2 linked regions of the Homo sapiens genome follow. Each later gene encodes a partner of the first gene's protein in a complex. Each region holds a gene or a part of one and is shown in the gene's direction. Other genes may lie near its edges.

Region 1 (7,650 bases):
GCTTGCCTTACCTCACATTTCTCTACACTTAGATTGGCTTTAAGTGGAATCTGTCTAAGGTGCATCAGATTGACAGAAGGTAAAACACATTTGGAATCCCAGCAGCAAAACTCTAGGAAATGGAGGCTTAAGCTTTCTAGCCATCTCAGCACAGAGAAGCTTATTTGTGAATGGGGCTGGAACATACGCCAAGAGAACCAATATAAGGCACAGTGTTCTTAACTCTATGTTCACTAGCTCCTCAATATTTTTCTGTTCTCCTCCTTTCAGCCTACCATACACCACTGTTACCTAAACCTGGATGAAACTTAAGACTCTGCTTGTGCCCCAAGTTGCTCAGTGATGCTAGATGTAAGATGGGGAAAGAGAGGAATCTCAAAACCTAAACATATTATGTCCTCCAGTCTAGTGCTGTTTTGGTTTACCTAAATTCTTTAAAAAATAATTTTATTACTCCCAAATCAGCCACCTCCCCCATACCATAAGGGCCTATTATAAATCTTCCCCTATTCATCATTTTTCTTATTTTAGTCTTCCTTCACAATTTCCAGTCTCCTACTTCAGGAAAGAAACACAAATCCTCATGAAAGAACTACAGTGAATTATCCTTTCTCTCTTAAATTTATTATATTTCCATTCTTTCCAGATAATCTAAGATTTAACCTTCTTCCTCTATTTGTGATTTAACTCTGCCAAATCTCCCTATTCCTTTCTTTATATATATATATAATAGATGATACAAGCCAGTGTGGTCTTAGAATCATATTGTCTGTGTTTGAACTCCAAGTCCGCTATTTACTAGCTATGTGACGTTGAGTAATCCCTGGCCTCTCTGAATGTTATTTTCTTATCTGTAAAACAGTGATAAGATTACCTTCTTCAAAGGATGATAGGGAAAATTAAATGAGAGAATCCATATAAAATAATTGAAATATGATCTACGCTTAGGAAGCACTCAATAAAATTGACTATCAGATAGATACAATTCAACTATGAAATACAGGCAGAGAATAGAGAGAGCATTTATGCAAAGAAAAAATCTGTTTATTTTAAATCATATTGATGGTGGTGGTACTGAGACAACTATATGTGTAGGTGGGATAAATCAAATGAGTAATTATTTTATTTTCTAATTCTATCTATCTTTCCATGTTATCATTGAGAACCAGTATTCCTGGTTTGGCAAACATTTGTATAATTGGTCTGGTACATCTTGTCAAACCATATAATAAATAAACCATCAAGGACTACTAGCATAGTCTCAAAAGTGTTCAGAACTCAACCAGAAGAGGCACTGGCAAATGATCATCAATAAGTATAGTAAGCAAAATTTATCAAAATGCCTCAAATATATGTAAATCCAATAATTCACAATTATCCCTTTTAAAATCCTTATTTGTCATGTGTGTAGGATTCTAGGGAACCAACTCATTATTTTTTAAAGCTCCTAAATAACACGAAAGAATCAAGCACTTTTCCTGCATTTCCTTTGCAATCTATATCTGAAAGTAACAAAACTGTTGAAGGTAAATTTTTTGGAACAGCACTCCAGTTAATAAAAACAGAAAGAATGACAGAAGTGCAATATCACAATTTTGCAACCTCTAATGATATGTCTCTAAACAAGTATCAATAATTGTGGCTAACTGTAAAAAGAGTCACAACCCGACCTCATGTGCCTCTTGATGGAAATAATCAAAATTCCCTTGAAGTATTCTTGTTAAAAAATTGCACCTGAATCTGATCAAGCTCATAGATTTAATTATTGATAAACAGGAAATACAGAGAACAAAGGAATATTCTAAACTCTACCATAGACATACAGTCAGCAAAGCTGAGAATGTAAAAAAACAAAAAAACAAACAAAAAAACCTCTCTACCAGTCACATCATCCACTTTCCTCAATAAATAAATGACATGAAAAAGGGGAAGATAGGTTGGGTATCCAGAGATAAAAAAGACTTAAAAGAAATATCAAAAAAGCAGGCCAAATTGAACTGTAGTGTCTGAGTGTACACATTTGTGTAATAAAACTATACGGAAAATCGTATAGGTTATTACCATAAATGTCACAATAGCAGTTACATTGAGAGGTGGAGGAAGTCATTTGTGATTGAACAGGGCACAAGGAAGCCTTCTGGGCTGGCTGGCAAATTTCTCTTGACTTGGATGGTTGTTACAAGTGTGTTTCCTTTCTCATAAGTCAATAACCTATAATTTTTAATGTGACTTTCTGTGTTTGTGCTATATTTTACAATAAAAAAGATTTTTAAAGGAGGAAAAAGATTGAATTAAGCAATGGTTGGATATCACCTACACTCTTTTTTAAATTTTCCTCTTTGGTGAGGAAAATTCTCTCATTTACTGATGAACTCTTAGGCAGAAAGACTGGAGACAAGCATCCCATCACACAAACCAAAAGATTTTTGTCCAAGGCCAATCTCTCTGGACACAATCTGGTCAGTGCTTCTCTCTCTTGCGTTGAACTGCCTCCCCTGGAACCTCATGAATGATGGATTATGAGGACATTCACAGACTATTTCTGACTTCTCCTTTATCGTTCTAACAGTGAAGTATCCTCTGTTCTCTGAGATATCACTAAGTAGCAGTCATACCAATATGTTCATGACCAATGCATTCGACCCAGGTGAAGGAAAAATCCCAGATGTCTCCTGCTTCCTTGCATGAATTACCTTATGTGAACACGGCTGCCAAAACCTTGACAGGTTCTCCCAGAAATGTCCATTCTAGGTTCACACAATGTCCAAGAAGGCTCCAGCACTTGTGTGGAGGGTCTCTCTGCACATTCTACCTCTCAGTTCTTCCTGTTTATTGTGAATAGGTGTGCACATTCTCTTTATGTCACTGTAAATAATTAATCCATAACCGGAGGCAAAAAGAATGAAGGTGTGGAAACAGTACAGAGCTAGTATAATAGTGGCAGCCCCAGAGTGAAAACATCAAGGGTCCAAGTCTGTCTTTTTTCCTACCCCTAAAGTCTGGAGAACACAATTCTCAAGTTATAATCAGGTACTTGGTTTTATAATATTTTGCTTTGTTGTTGGATTTAAATATCCAACTATGAGGCCAGGCGTGGTGGCTCATGCCTGTAATCCCAGCACTTTGGGAGGCCGAGGCAGGTGGATCACCTGAGGTCAGGAGTTCAAGACCAGTCTGGCCAACATGGTGAAACCCTGTCTCTACTAAAAATATATATTAAGAAAAATTAGCTGAGCTTGGTGGCGGACGCCTGTAATCCCAGCTACTCAGGAAGCTGAGGCAGGAGAATTGCTTGAACCCAGGAGGCAGAAGTTGCAGTGAGCTGAGATCATGCCACTGCACTCCAGCCTGGGCAACAAAAGTGAAACTTTGTCTCAAAATAAAAAAATAAATCCATCTATGTGACACCATCTTGTACTAAGCAGATTGTTTGGACTGAATAGTCTTTCTAGGTATGTCACAAAACCTGAATTCATAAAAGCAAAAGGTGACAGATTTGAGTACATGAAGACTAAAAACAGATTCAGAGAATAAGTTTGTATTTTCTATGTCAGTTTGCACTAAATTAATTTACAAACAAGGTCGCTGAGGCTTTGACTCAACTGTTAACACTTTCTGAGAGTGAGATTCTTTTGATTAGGGTCTTAAGGTCTTTGTTCATCTCAGAAGTCTTAATTGGTTTAATTAGGCTGACACCTACAGCCCTGTCTCATTACCATAAACTGTAGAGGGGTTCAACATGACACTGATTGTTTCTTAGAGCAAAGCCAGTGCAGTGAGTAGGATTCCAGGCCCCCCGGAATGAAGCAGGAAAACCCGAGGCCTGTGGATGCAGGATGTACTAGGGAGGTGCTGGGGAGTAGTGCAGATAAACCCAGAATTCAGTTGGTTGGTAAAACAAGAGTGATCTGAGTCCTGTGCTTGTCTACGTGATCCACCATTGAATGGCAGGCCAGCCATTGTGCAGGCATCTGCATATGAAGTGACTGGAAGCTTCACTGGAACAAGGATCTCCTTGGAAATTCTCTCCCCTCAGACAGCCAGGGTGCTTAACATGAAAAGAAGTTGTAACCCTATCCTTAAACTATAGAAGCCATCAGCAGAAGTTACAGGCTTATGGGGGCCCACTGGAAAGGGAAAATCAAAAGGCCTGTGGATTTCAAATTAATGAGTGATCTTAAGTTGCATTTCCTAAGTTCGGCTACAGACTCATATATTTCATGAGTCCCTCCCTACCCATTCCTTGCCTCTCCCTTCAGTTGCTGGGTTTCTGAATTTCTGTATAGTTAACCCTTATCTTGCCTCCCATTTGTTCAATAGAAATGATCACTTTTACTTGAATCTTTTGGTAGAATTGTATACCATGTGTTCCTGTCTAGGTTTAATCATCAGATTGTGGTCAAATTGCTCTGCCAGACTGTGTGAACAAAAAAGTGAATGGAAATTTTCGTTTTAAAAAATAATACTTTTGGACTTAGCCCGTGGCTAAGAAGAAGTAAGGAAGCCAAGCGTACGGATAGCAGCGAGGGGTCAATCCACGCCCGGCGTTGGGTCGGGGGTGGAGGAGTCGGAAGTGGTTGGGGTTTGGGGGAGGAGATCCGCTCACACACAAGAGGAGAGTGTTGAGCCGCCATATCTGCTGCTGCCGCCGCAGTTGCGAATGCAGCATCGGCGCTTAGCTGCCTCCGCGGTGCAGCTAAGGTTCGTGTCGCTACCCCTTGGCCCTTCGCTCTTGCTGCCTTAACCCCGCCGGCGGAGCCCGCTCTTCTGGCCTGTTGAGCCCGCTCCCTCACTGCCACACAGCAAGTTCCGAGACCATGGATTCGGGCAGCAGCAGCAGCGACTCGGCGCCCGATTGCTGGGACCAGGTGGACATGGAATCCCCGGGGTCGGCCCCGAGCGGGGATGGAGTCTCCTCTGCGGTGGCCGAGGCCCAGCGCGAGCCCCTCAGCTCGGCTTTCAGCCGTAAGCTCAACGTCAACGCCAAGCCCTTCGTGCCTAACGTACACGCCGCGGAGTTCGTGCCGTCCTTCCTGCGGGGCCCGACTCAGCCGCCCACCCTCCCGGCCGGCTCCGGCAGCAACGATGAAACCTGCACCGGCGCGGGATACCCTCAAGGTAAAAGGATGGGACGGGGGGCACCTGTGGAACCTTCCCGAGAGGAACCGTTAGTGTCGCTTGAAGGTTCCAATTCAGCCGTTACCATGGAACTTTCAGAACCTGTTGTAGAAAATGGAGAGGTGGAAATGGCCCTAGAAGAATCATGGGAGCACAGTAAAGAAGTAAGTGAAGCCGAGCCTGGGGGTGGTTCCTCGGGAGATTCAGGGCCCCCAGAAGAAAGTGGCCAGGAAATGATGGAGGAAAAAGAGGAAATAAGAAAATCCAAATCTGTGATCGTACCCTCAGGTGCACCTAAGAAAGAACACGTAAATGTAGTATTCATTGGCCATGTAGACGCTGGCAAGTCAACCATCGGAGGACAGATAATGTTTTTGACTGGAATGGTTGACAAAAGAACACTGGAGAAATATGAAAGAGAAGCTAAGGAAAAAAACAGAGAAACCTGGTATTTGTCCTGGGCCTTAGATACAAATCAGGAGGAACGAGACAAGGGTAAAACAGTCGAAGTGGGTCGTGCCTATTTTGAAACAGAAAGGAAACATTTCACAATTTTAGATGCCCCTGGCCACAAGAGTTTTGTCCCAAATATGATTGGTGGTGCTTCTCAAGCTGATTTGGCTGTGCTGGTCATCTCTGCCAGGAAAGGAGAGTTTGAAACTGGATTTGAAAAAGGTGGACAGACAAGAGAACATGCGATGTTGGCAAAAACGGCAGGGGTAAAACATTTAATAGTGCTTATTAATAAGATGGATGATCCCACAGTAAATTGGAGCATCGAGAGATATGAAGAATGTAAAGAAAAACTGGTGCCCTTTTTGAAAAAAGTAGGCTTCAGTCCAAAAAAGGACATTCACTTTATGCCCTGCTCAGGACTGACCGGAGCAAATATTAAAGAGCAGTCAGATTTCTGCCCTTGGTACACTGGATTACCATTTATTCCGTATTTGGATAACTTGCCAAACTTCAACAGATCAATTGATGGACCAATAAGACTGCCAATTGTGGATAAGTACAAAGATATGGGCACTGTGGTCCTGGGAAAGCTGGAATCCGGGTCCATTTTTAAAGGCCAGCAGCTCGTGATGATGCCAAACAAGCACAATGTAGAAGTTCTTGGAATACTTTCTGATGATACTGAAACTGATTTTGTAGCCCCAGGTGAAAACCTCAAAATCAGACTGAAGGGAATTGAAGAAGAAGAGATTCTTCCAGGATTCATACTTTGTGATCCTAGTAACCTCTGCCATTCTGGACGCACGTTTGATGTTCAGATAGTGATTATTGAGCACAAATCCATCATCTGCCCAGGTTATAATGCGGTGCTGCACATTCATACTTGTATTGAGGAAGTTGAGATAACAGCGTTAATCTCCTTGGTAGACAAAAAATCAGGAGAAAAAAGTAAGACACGACCCCGCTTCGTGAAACAAGATCAAGTATGCATTGCTCGTTTAAGGACAGCAGGAACCATCTGCCTCGAGACGTTCAAAGATTTTCCTCAGATGGGTCGTTTTACTTTAAGAGATGAGGGTAAGACCATTGCAATTGGAAAAGTTCTGAAATTGGTCCCAGAGAAGGACTAAGCAATTTTCTTGATGCCTCTGCAAGATACTGTGAGGAGAATTGACAGCAAAAGTTCACCACCTACTCTTATTTACTGCCCATTGATTGACTTTTCTTCATATTTTGCAAAGAGAAATTTCACAGCAAAAATTCATGTTTTGTCAGCTTTCTCATGTTGAGATCTGTTATGTCACTGATGAATTTACCCTCAAGTTTCCTTCCTCTGTACCACTCTGCTTCCTTGGACAATATCAGTAATAGCTTTGTAAGTGATGTGGACGTAATTGCCTACAGTAATGAAAAATTAATGTACTTTAATTTTTCATTTTCTTTTAGGATATTTAGACCACCCTTGTTCCACGCAAACCAGAGTGTGTCAGTGTTTGTGTGTGTGTTAAAATGATAACTAACATGTGAATAAAATACTCCATTTGAAACTCTTCGGTTATTTGAAATGCTTTTGAATAATGTTTAAATGTCATTATGTAATGCTATTCAATTAGCTTTATTACTTTCTCAAATAGTTGAATATGTTCTATCACTTAAAAACTTAAAAACTCTTCACCACTTACTGTTTTAAGTGAGGAATTTACAAACAATGCATAAGTGTGTATTAAAGGAATAATTTTAATTTTGAGAAAAAAACGTATGTTAAGGCTCTTCCCAGTGGGCTTTGTTTTCTCTGTCCAAGTCCAGTCAATAAAGGAGCTCTTCTGCTTCCCCACTTGTGATTTGAAAATGAAAGGCTCAGGCCGTCTTTATTTGTATAGCAGTAGTTCATGTAACATTATCCATAGGTTCTTGAAGACTACAACATTAAGCAAAACAATGTACAGCAGGTGTACATCGTACAACAATGCACAATGTATGACATTGTTCAATGTTGTTATGACATTGTTCAATGTTGTTATGACATTGTTCAATGTTGTTATGACCTTGTTCAATGTTGTTTAGTTATGACATTGT
Region 2 (7,296 bases), on another chromosome or scaffold:
TTACTCTTAAACTTATCTTCACATTAGTGACAAATAACCTCATTCTGTAGCTTTTTTTTTTTTTTTTTTTTGAGAAAGGGTCTTGCTCTGTTACCCAGGCTGGAGTGCAGTGATCACAGCTCACTGTAACCTCAAACTCCTGGGCTCCGGTGATCTTCCTGCCTCAGCCTCCTCAGTAGCTGGCACTAGGGGCACATGCTGCTGTGCCTGGCTGATTTTTTTTTCTTGTTTTTGTAGAGACCAGTTCTCTCTAAGCACAAAGACTTATTTGTGCTTTCAACATCAAAACTTATAACAGGCCTGTAATCCCAACACTTTGGGAGGCTGAGGCAGGTGGGTCACGTGAGGTCAGGAGTTCGAGATCAGCCTGGGCAACATGGTGAAACCCCTATCTCTACTAAACATACAAAAATTAGCCAGGCATCATGGCCTGCGCCTGTGGTCCCAGCTACTAGGGAGGCTGAGGCAGGTGGGTCACGTGGGGTCAGGAGTTCGAGATCAGCCTGGGCAACATGGTGAAACCCCCATCTCTACTAAAAATACAAAAATTAGCCAGGCATCATGGCCCACGCCTGTGGTCCCAGCTACTAGGGAGGCTGAGGTGGAAGGATCGCTTAAGTCCTGGGGTCAAGGTTGCAGTGAGTTATTATCGTACCACTGTACTCCAGCCTGGGCAACAGTGAGACCCTGCCTCAAAAAAAAAAAAGAAAATGAAACAAAAACTTACTTGCCTACTCCCACCTAATTAGGTAGGAACATCACCTATATCCCAATATTTAACTTTGTTACATAATGTTTGAGCTGAGGAGGAAGTTCTGAGATCATAAAGAACAATTCCTTTATTTTTCAGAGAATCTGTGTGCCTAGAGAGGTTATATATTTTGTTCTCACCATTTAGCAGTTTGAAAAATCTGTATCACTTTTATATCACAGAACATTCCTCAACAATGAATCGTCATGGTCCCATTTAAAAAGCCTTGATGCAGGCACTACCATCCGTGCTTCATACATCCCAAACCTCTTCACGTAGATAGTTATCCCAGCCTTTGCCTCTAATGCACTGATTTCTAATTCTAAATGCAGAGATGGTGAATTTGCAGCAACTAGGCAAGGAGCTTTTGGGGCTACCTGGGCCTGCAATTGTCTAAGAAATAAGTTTTAAGAATTCAGAGGCTGAAAACAGCAATCCTACTTGGGATGTCGTCATGCTTACTTCAGCCTGAATCACACAGAAGAAAGCCTTCAAGCATGGACCTGAAGCAATGCTGTAAACACAAACATCAAAAGGAAGAGGAGGCCAGGTGTGGTGGCTCACGCATGTAATCCCAGCACTTTGGGAAGCGGAGGCAGGTGGATCACCTGAGGTCAGGAATTCAAGATCAGCCTGGCCAACATGGTGAAACCCTGTCTCTGCTAAAAAAAAAATAAAAAATAAAAAATACAAAAACTGGCCCGGCATGGTGGTTCACGCCTGTAATCCCAGCACTTTGGGAGGCCGAGGCAGGCAGATCACGAGGTCAGGAGATCGAGACCATCCTGGCTAACACGGTGAAACCCCGACTCTAATAAAAATACAAAAAATTAGCTGGGCATGGTGGCACCCGCCTGTAGTCCCAGCTACTCAGGAGGCTGCCGCAGAAGAATCGCTTGAACCCGGGATGTGGAGGTTGCAGTGAGCCAAGATCGTGCCACTGCACTCCAACCTGGGCGACAAAGGGAGACTCCGTCTTTAAAAAAAAAAAAAAAAAGAACAGGAAGGGTAGAGTAGGGCAATCTAATATAGAAAGGAGGAACCAGGGCAAGAGGAATGAAGGAAAACCTTGGACACAGTTGATTCCTAGTCAGTAAGCAGTGTTTATGACTAAGAAGACCCCTCCGTTCACTACTAAACACAGTGAATGACACACACACAGCAGGAGTACAATATTATATAACAAATAAACATATGCCAAAAACTACAAAATGGAACCCAAAGAAGAGGTTCCAACCTGAGATTCATTTCCTGGGGGACAGAAGTATGACCGTGTCCCCACCCTATGAAAATACAGGTAATGGGGTCACTGTATAATACACTGGACTCCAAAAATGGAGTCGGGAAGCCATAAACTAGCTGTGGACTCTGAGCAGATCCCTTTCACTTTTCTTTGCCTCAGTTTCCCCATGTATGAAATGGAGGTCATACCCCCATCTTCAAAGTGTGGACACAGTTTATAACACATGCAAAAAGTATTCAAAAACCATACAAATGAAAGCGCATGACGGACATCCCTACTTACATGTCTCATAAGCAATCTCAAACTTAACAGGCCCAAGATGAAATTCTCAATCATCCCCCAACACCTACTCCTCACCTTTCCCACCTCAGTAAATGTCACCACTTCAGTACTCTGGGAACCATTCTTGGTTTTCCTCAACCAATCCATCATCCAGTCCTATTCACTTTTTTTTTTTCCTCGAGACAAGGTCTCGCTCTGTCACCCAGGCTGGAGTGTAGTGGTGTGATCTCAGCTCACTGCAGCCTCGAATTCCTCGGCTCAAGGGTTTCTCCCACCTCAGCCTCCCAAGCAGCTGGGACTACAGGCGCGGGCCACCACACCAGGCTAATATTTTGTAATTTTGTAGAGACGGAATCTTGCCATGTTGCCCAGGCTGCTCGCAAACTCCTGGGCTCAAGCGATCCTCCCCTTTGGCCTCCCAAAGTGCTGGGATTACAGCCGTGGGCCACTGCACCAGGCCCTTCATTCACTTCTATCTGCACTGTCACCACCCTAATGTAAGCGAAAATCATCTCTCACATGATAATGAAGCAGCCAAAATGGTCTCTGGGCTTCTCCTGTACTCTCTCCAGTCCACACCAGGGCTCTAAACCCTTTAAACTACCCACTGTTCTTGAAAGAAACCAAACTTCTGAATCTGGCTTAAAAGACCCTACATGACCTCTTCCCCTGCTGCTCCCTCAAACCACTCTCCCCGTCCCTGACCTTGTGCCAGCACACTGGCGTTTCTGTAGTTCTCAACTGTATTCTGTTTCCTCCTGACAAACTCTTAATCATCCTTTGGGTCTCATTTCAGAGCTGGGTCCCCGCCATACACTCTCAGAGCACCCTGAAGTACTTAAGCATTTGTGTAATTATTTTATTACAAAAAGTATAAAATCACAAACTTAAAAACCCAATCGACTATAAGCTCCATAAGGGTAAGTACTGTCATCTGTTTGGTTCACCTCTGTATCCCCAGGAAAACAGGGTCCAGCACACGGTCTGGGCTCAATATTTGAACCCAGACGAGGTGAGGGGGGACAAAGTAGCCACCTAAAAATCCTAACTCAAAAAGATAAAGTTCTAACCGTATGTGGATGCCCATTTTGTTTCAACTCTCTCCACCCCCATTCTCAACGGCTCAGGCCAAATCATACATGGGACCAGATACCTCAGGTCTCCAAGCTCAGGCAGCCCCCGCTGTCTTCCACCCCATAAAGTTCTAAGTCCAAAGTGAGCCCGTCCTAGCTCTGGGGCGAGAGAAAACAGGCCTCTTTCGCCCCTGCAGGTGAGGGTCCCGGACCGCCCGGAGGCAGGTTCCTCATCCAGACCTACTGGCCAGGACTCCTCCACACTATTCCGTGCAGCCATGACGCACGCAGACCGCAGCACTTCGTCAGCGAAGAAGCCGCTGAGCGCGAGGCGCTTCTTCGCGGCTTCTCAAGCACCGTTCAAACCGCGCGTCGGGCCCAAGTGCCTAGCTTCGAGTCGCAAAGCCTCAGATGTCCACCCTATTCAAGGAGAATGGACTGAAAAGACGACGACCCCGGTCCTCTCTCTTTAAGAACCACCCCCATTCGAGCCTGACGGGGGCTCTCAGTAAACTCGCGAGAGCCACCGGCTTCCGCCCGCTTCCTCCTCTCGCCTTGCCGGGCCGGAAGAAAGGTGGCACCTCCCACCCCCCAGCCTTACCTCACAAGGCGGCGCGGACCCAGCTGCAGCCAATCGGCGGGCTCATTGTAGGCTGCGGGGCAGAGAGCCAATGAGAAGTCGCGGCGGACGCCCAGCTTCTCCTCACTCGCACCGGCCCCCTCCCTTCCGCCTGCCGCCTTCCACTCCGCCCCTGGCGGAGGAAGTGATGTCACAGGCCCCATGTGAGCGGATTGCAACACATGCAGCTGCCTGGAGAGAGGGAGCCGGTGTCCTACGTCAGAGCCGCCGCCGCCGCGGAGCCGCCGCCGGGGAGGAGCAGCCGCTGCCGCCCAGGACTGGGCCCTTAGGTAAGGCACAGGGAGGGAAAGGCCGGTGACCTTTGTGGCGAGCTGCACCGGACGGGAGGAGAGGGCCTCTGGGGGATGGCGAGGAAGGGGGCCGCTCTGCCCCAGCGGCGGCGCTAACTCTGTGGTCTTGGTGTCTCCGGGCCCCGCCGGGCCGCTCTAGGGAGGAGGAGGCGAGAAGATGGCGGACGACCCCAGTGCTGCCGACAGGAACGTGGAGATCTGGAAGATCAAGAAGCTCATTAAGAGCTTGGAGGCGGCCCGCGGGTGAGCGCCGCGTCCGGCACCCTCCGTGCCCTCTTGGTTCCCGGACCCCTCAGGATGGACGCCCCCGCGCCGCATGGCCGGATGAGGAGAACCAGGCACTAGCCAACTCCCGCCTTCTGGATCTCTGGGTAGTAGCCCCTGACCCAGGGGCGAGGGTCGGCGCGGTTGGCCCGAGAAGGGGTCCTTTCCCCGCATGGGGGTAAGGGGCCCGCGCTCCCCGGTTTAGATCACTCGGCCCCCCTCGTGGTAGGCCACCGCTACTTTTGCACCTCTCCCGGGCCCTTAAGTCCAGGTCCTCCCTCTTCGGGCTCCAGGTGCTGCCACCCGACTCGGGTGCTATTGTGGCAAAGTGTTCGGCCTTCCTTTCCCAGGGCCCTTCCCTGATTTCCTCTTCTCCCTTCATTTCTCAGCCAGGCCTCATTAAAATGGCCTCTCCCTTCTGGGCTTCTGAGACCCGGGTGGGTGAAGTTTGGATGGGACGGGAAGCAGAGGTGGCCAGGGACAGCTTCTTTCTGATTCCTGATTTCTCTGGGTCTTCCACCTGTCCCAAGATGACTTCTCCCAAGTCCTCTAATTACCCCGGAGCTTCCTGGTTTTAGCTGTTCCAGGACCCACCTATAAACTGAAAATGCCAACGTACGCGCGATGTGAGGGGTGCTGGGTAGGTTTTGGTTAATGAATCTGCATGTGTATGTCCAGGAGAAATACGGGTTAGGGGGCCGTTTGATAGGAATCATAACTACAGAGTCCCTGCTGGCATTTCTCTGAAACTTGTGGGGATATCGCTGTAGAGAGGCGCCTGATGTGCTTGATGCTTGTTGAGTGAGATTCATAATTGAATTAAATGGGCTTTGAGTCTTGTACATTTTGATAAGAAACTGTAGGTGTGTCCATTGGGGGGAGAGTAGGCTAGATTAAAATTAGCTGTGTGTGTGTGTTTTCTTTTTTTTTTAACGTTGTTCGTTTGAGGAAGGTGTGCCAGGGGTATTCCTGTTTCTTTTATTACTTTATTTTGTTCCTTTCCCAGTCATAGAAACTTTTTACTTACAGGAAGTGCCCCCCCCCCCAAAAAAAAGTGTTTGGAACATTATTACATACTTGTATGTCTGAGCATTCTTAGAATAGTAGAATGGCCTGCCTCAGGCCATGTGAAAAGTTGATTTCAGCACAAGAATTTGACATTCTGGTTTCCAGCCCAGGATTGTCATTTATGGGTAGATTTGCAATTTTAGAATGACAGCCCCTCCAAGCTCTTCATTATTACTGTTATATGAAACAGGATGTGCTTAATTGTACTGAAGGCCCAATTCACAGGTTGGTTTTACTAGTGTTTTGTTCTTAATAAATTAGGGACAGTTCTGTTTGGAATGAGGCTTCTAAAAGTTTGGCCCCATTCAGTGACGGGCTTGTGCTCACTCCTTCGGTTTACTGGAGAAACGTTAGTTTAATATGAATCGAAGACAGCGGCTTGTTAGTCCTTAGGTTTTTCTTTGAATTCAATAGAATATCCAGACCTTCTTAATGATCTTACAGGAACTTGTGCCGTATGATAGAGTGACCAGTTATTCCCAAAATGTGAGAATACTGTACAGAAAGGGTAACATAGGTCACGACCCATTATGTTGCACTACCAAGAATTAGCCAGGTTCTTTTGTTTCAGTAGGATCTTGTTTTGTTACTTGAAGCCTTCAATCCAGTATTGCATTTTATAGATTGCTGTTGTTGCAGTATTGTATATAGGTGGATGTGACCTCTGGATTTGTTCTTACTGCTTTCAGTAGCAGGCAGGTTTACACATTTTAATTTGCATACGTTATATTCTCTGAAACAGTCCAAAAAATTAAATCATGACTATAATTTGCCTGTTTGAATGAAGTAACATTGAAGATGACATTGCTTAATAAGTAACAGCATTCCTTTCTACTGCTTAATGAAGGAAACTCATTCTTAAATTTGTTCTACCCATGTTACCTAGCCACTAGAAACTTTTAAGCGCCTCTTTAAGGCTTTTGAAGGCTTTACCTCTTTGTTTAGCAAAGTTCAGTAAAGTTTAAAGCATGCTAAAAATGAAGTTATAAGACACAACTTGTATTTCAAGTTGTTGAGTTTGGATATTTCAGACATGATTAAGCTGTCTAAAATAGCTGGAGGACCTTCCGCTACACATTGTGGTTAATAATCATGTCCTACTTTGCTTTTAATCAGGATTTGGTTGCATCTTGATCCCATGGAAATTTAAAATCTTGGCCATCTCTGAGTATTGGTAAGGGAGTCAGAAGATTCCCCAGTATATACCAGTTTTTGGAGGTGGGAATATTTTCATTGCCAACTTGTGTTAAAGTCAGACTCTAGATTTTCATAGATAGGGTACAGTGGAAAATGTTATTCCTACTTTACCTAGTGATAAAATATCTTTAGAAGAATTGTAATGGGCTTTAAAGACTTAAGTGGATGGCAAAATGAATCTGTATTTGCTGATGTTTTGGGGATACTCTGGTTTTCAGGAGGAAACTGAGGTTTTCAGGCATGGTTATTAGGACAAGGTAGTGAGACTTAGTGGTTGAGTAACAGTATTGTTTTGGAAATGAAAAAGCCCTTTCCTCCCCTTAGCAGTGTAGAATTCTAGGCATAGGAATCATGGATTTGTTTTTAACAGTAGTTATTAAAATATGCTAGAATAAGAGTGATTTTGAAATTAAGATAATCCTATGTGGTTATCTCTTGATATATGACCCAAATTTAATGTAGCTTGAAAAAGGAACCACCTGCAAAAT

Evidence for each region.
Region 2: GSPT2 (region 1) and ETF1 share a complex: the UniProt entries of both Homo sapiens proteins name them as parts of the eRF1-eRF3-GTP ternary complex.

The regions. Positions count from the first base shown.
Region 1 is NC_000023.11:51,738,810-51,746,459, forward strand, and holds GSPT2 (eukaryotic peptide chain release factor GTP-binding subunit ERF3B), read left to right. Parts: upstream 1-4,632; 5' UTR 4,633-4,817; coding exon 4,818-6,704; 3' UTR 6,705-7,423; downstream 7,424-7,650. UniProt on the Homo sapiens protein: GTPase component of the eRF1-eRF3-GTP ternary complex, a ternary complex that mediates translation termination in response to the termination codons UAA, UAG and UGA.
Region 2 is NC_000005.10:138,540,059-138,547,354, reverse strand, and holds the start of ETF1 (eukaryotic peptide chain release factor subunit 1), read left to right. Parts: upstream 1-4,118; 5' UTR 4,119-4,258; intron 4,259-4,411; exon of another isoform or gene 4,412-4,418; 5' UTR 4,419-4,436; coding exon 4,437-4,522; exon of another isoform or gene 4,523-4,721; intron 4,722-5,643; exon of another isoform or gene 5,644-5,792; coding exon of another isoform or gene 5,793-5,836; intron 5,837-7,296. UniProt on the Homo sapiens protein: Component of the eRF1-eRF3-GTP ternary complex, a ternary complex that mediates translation termination in response to the termination codons. The eRF1-eRF3-GTP complex binds to a stop codon in the ribosomal A-site.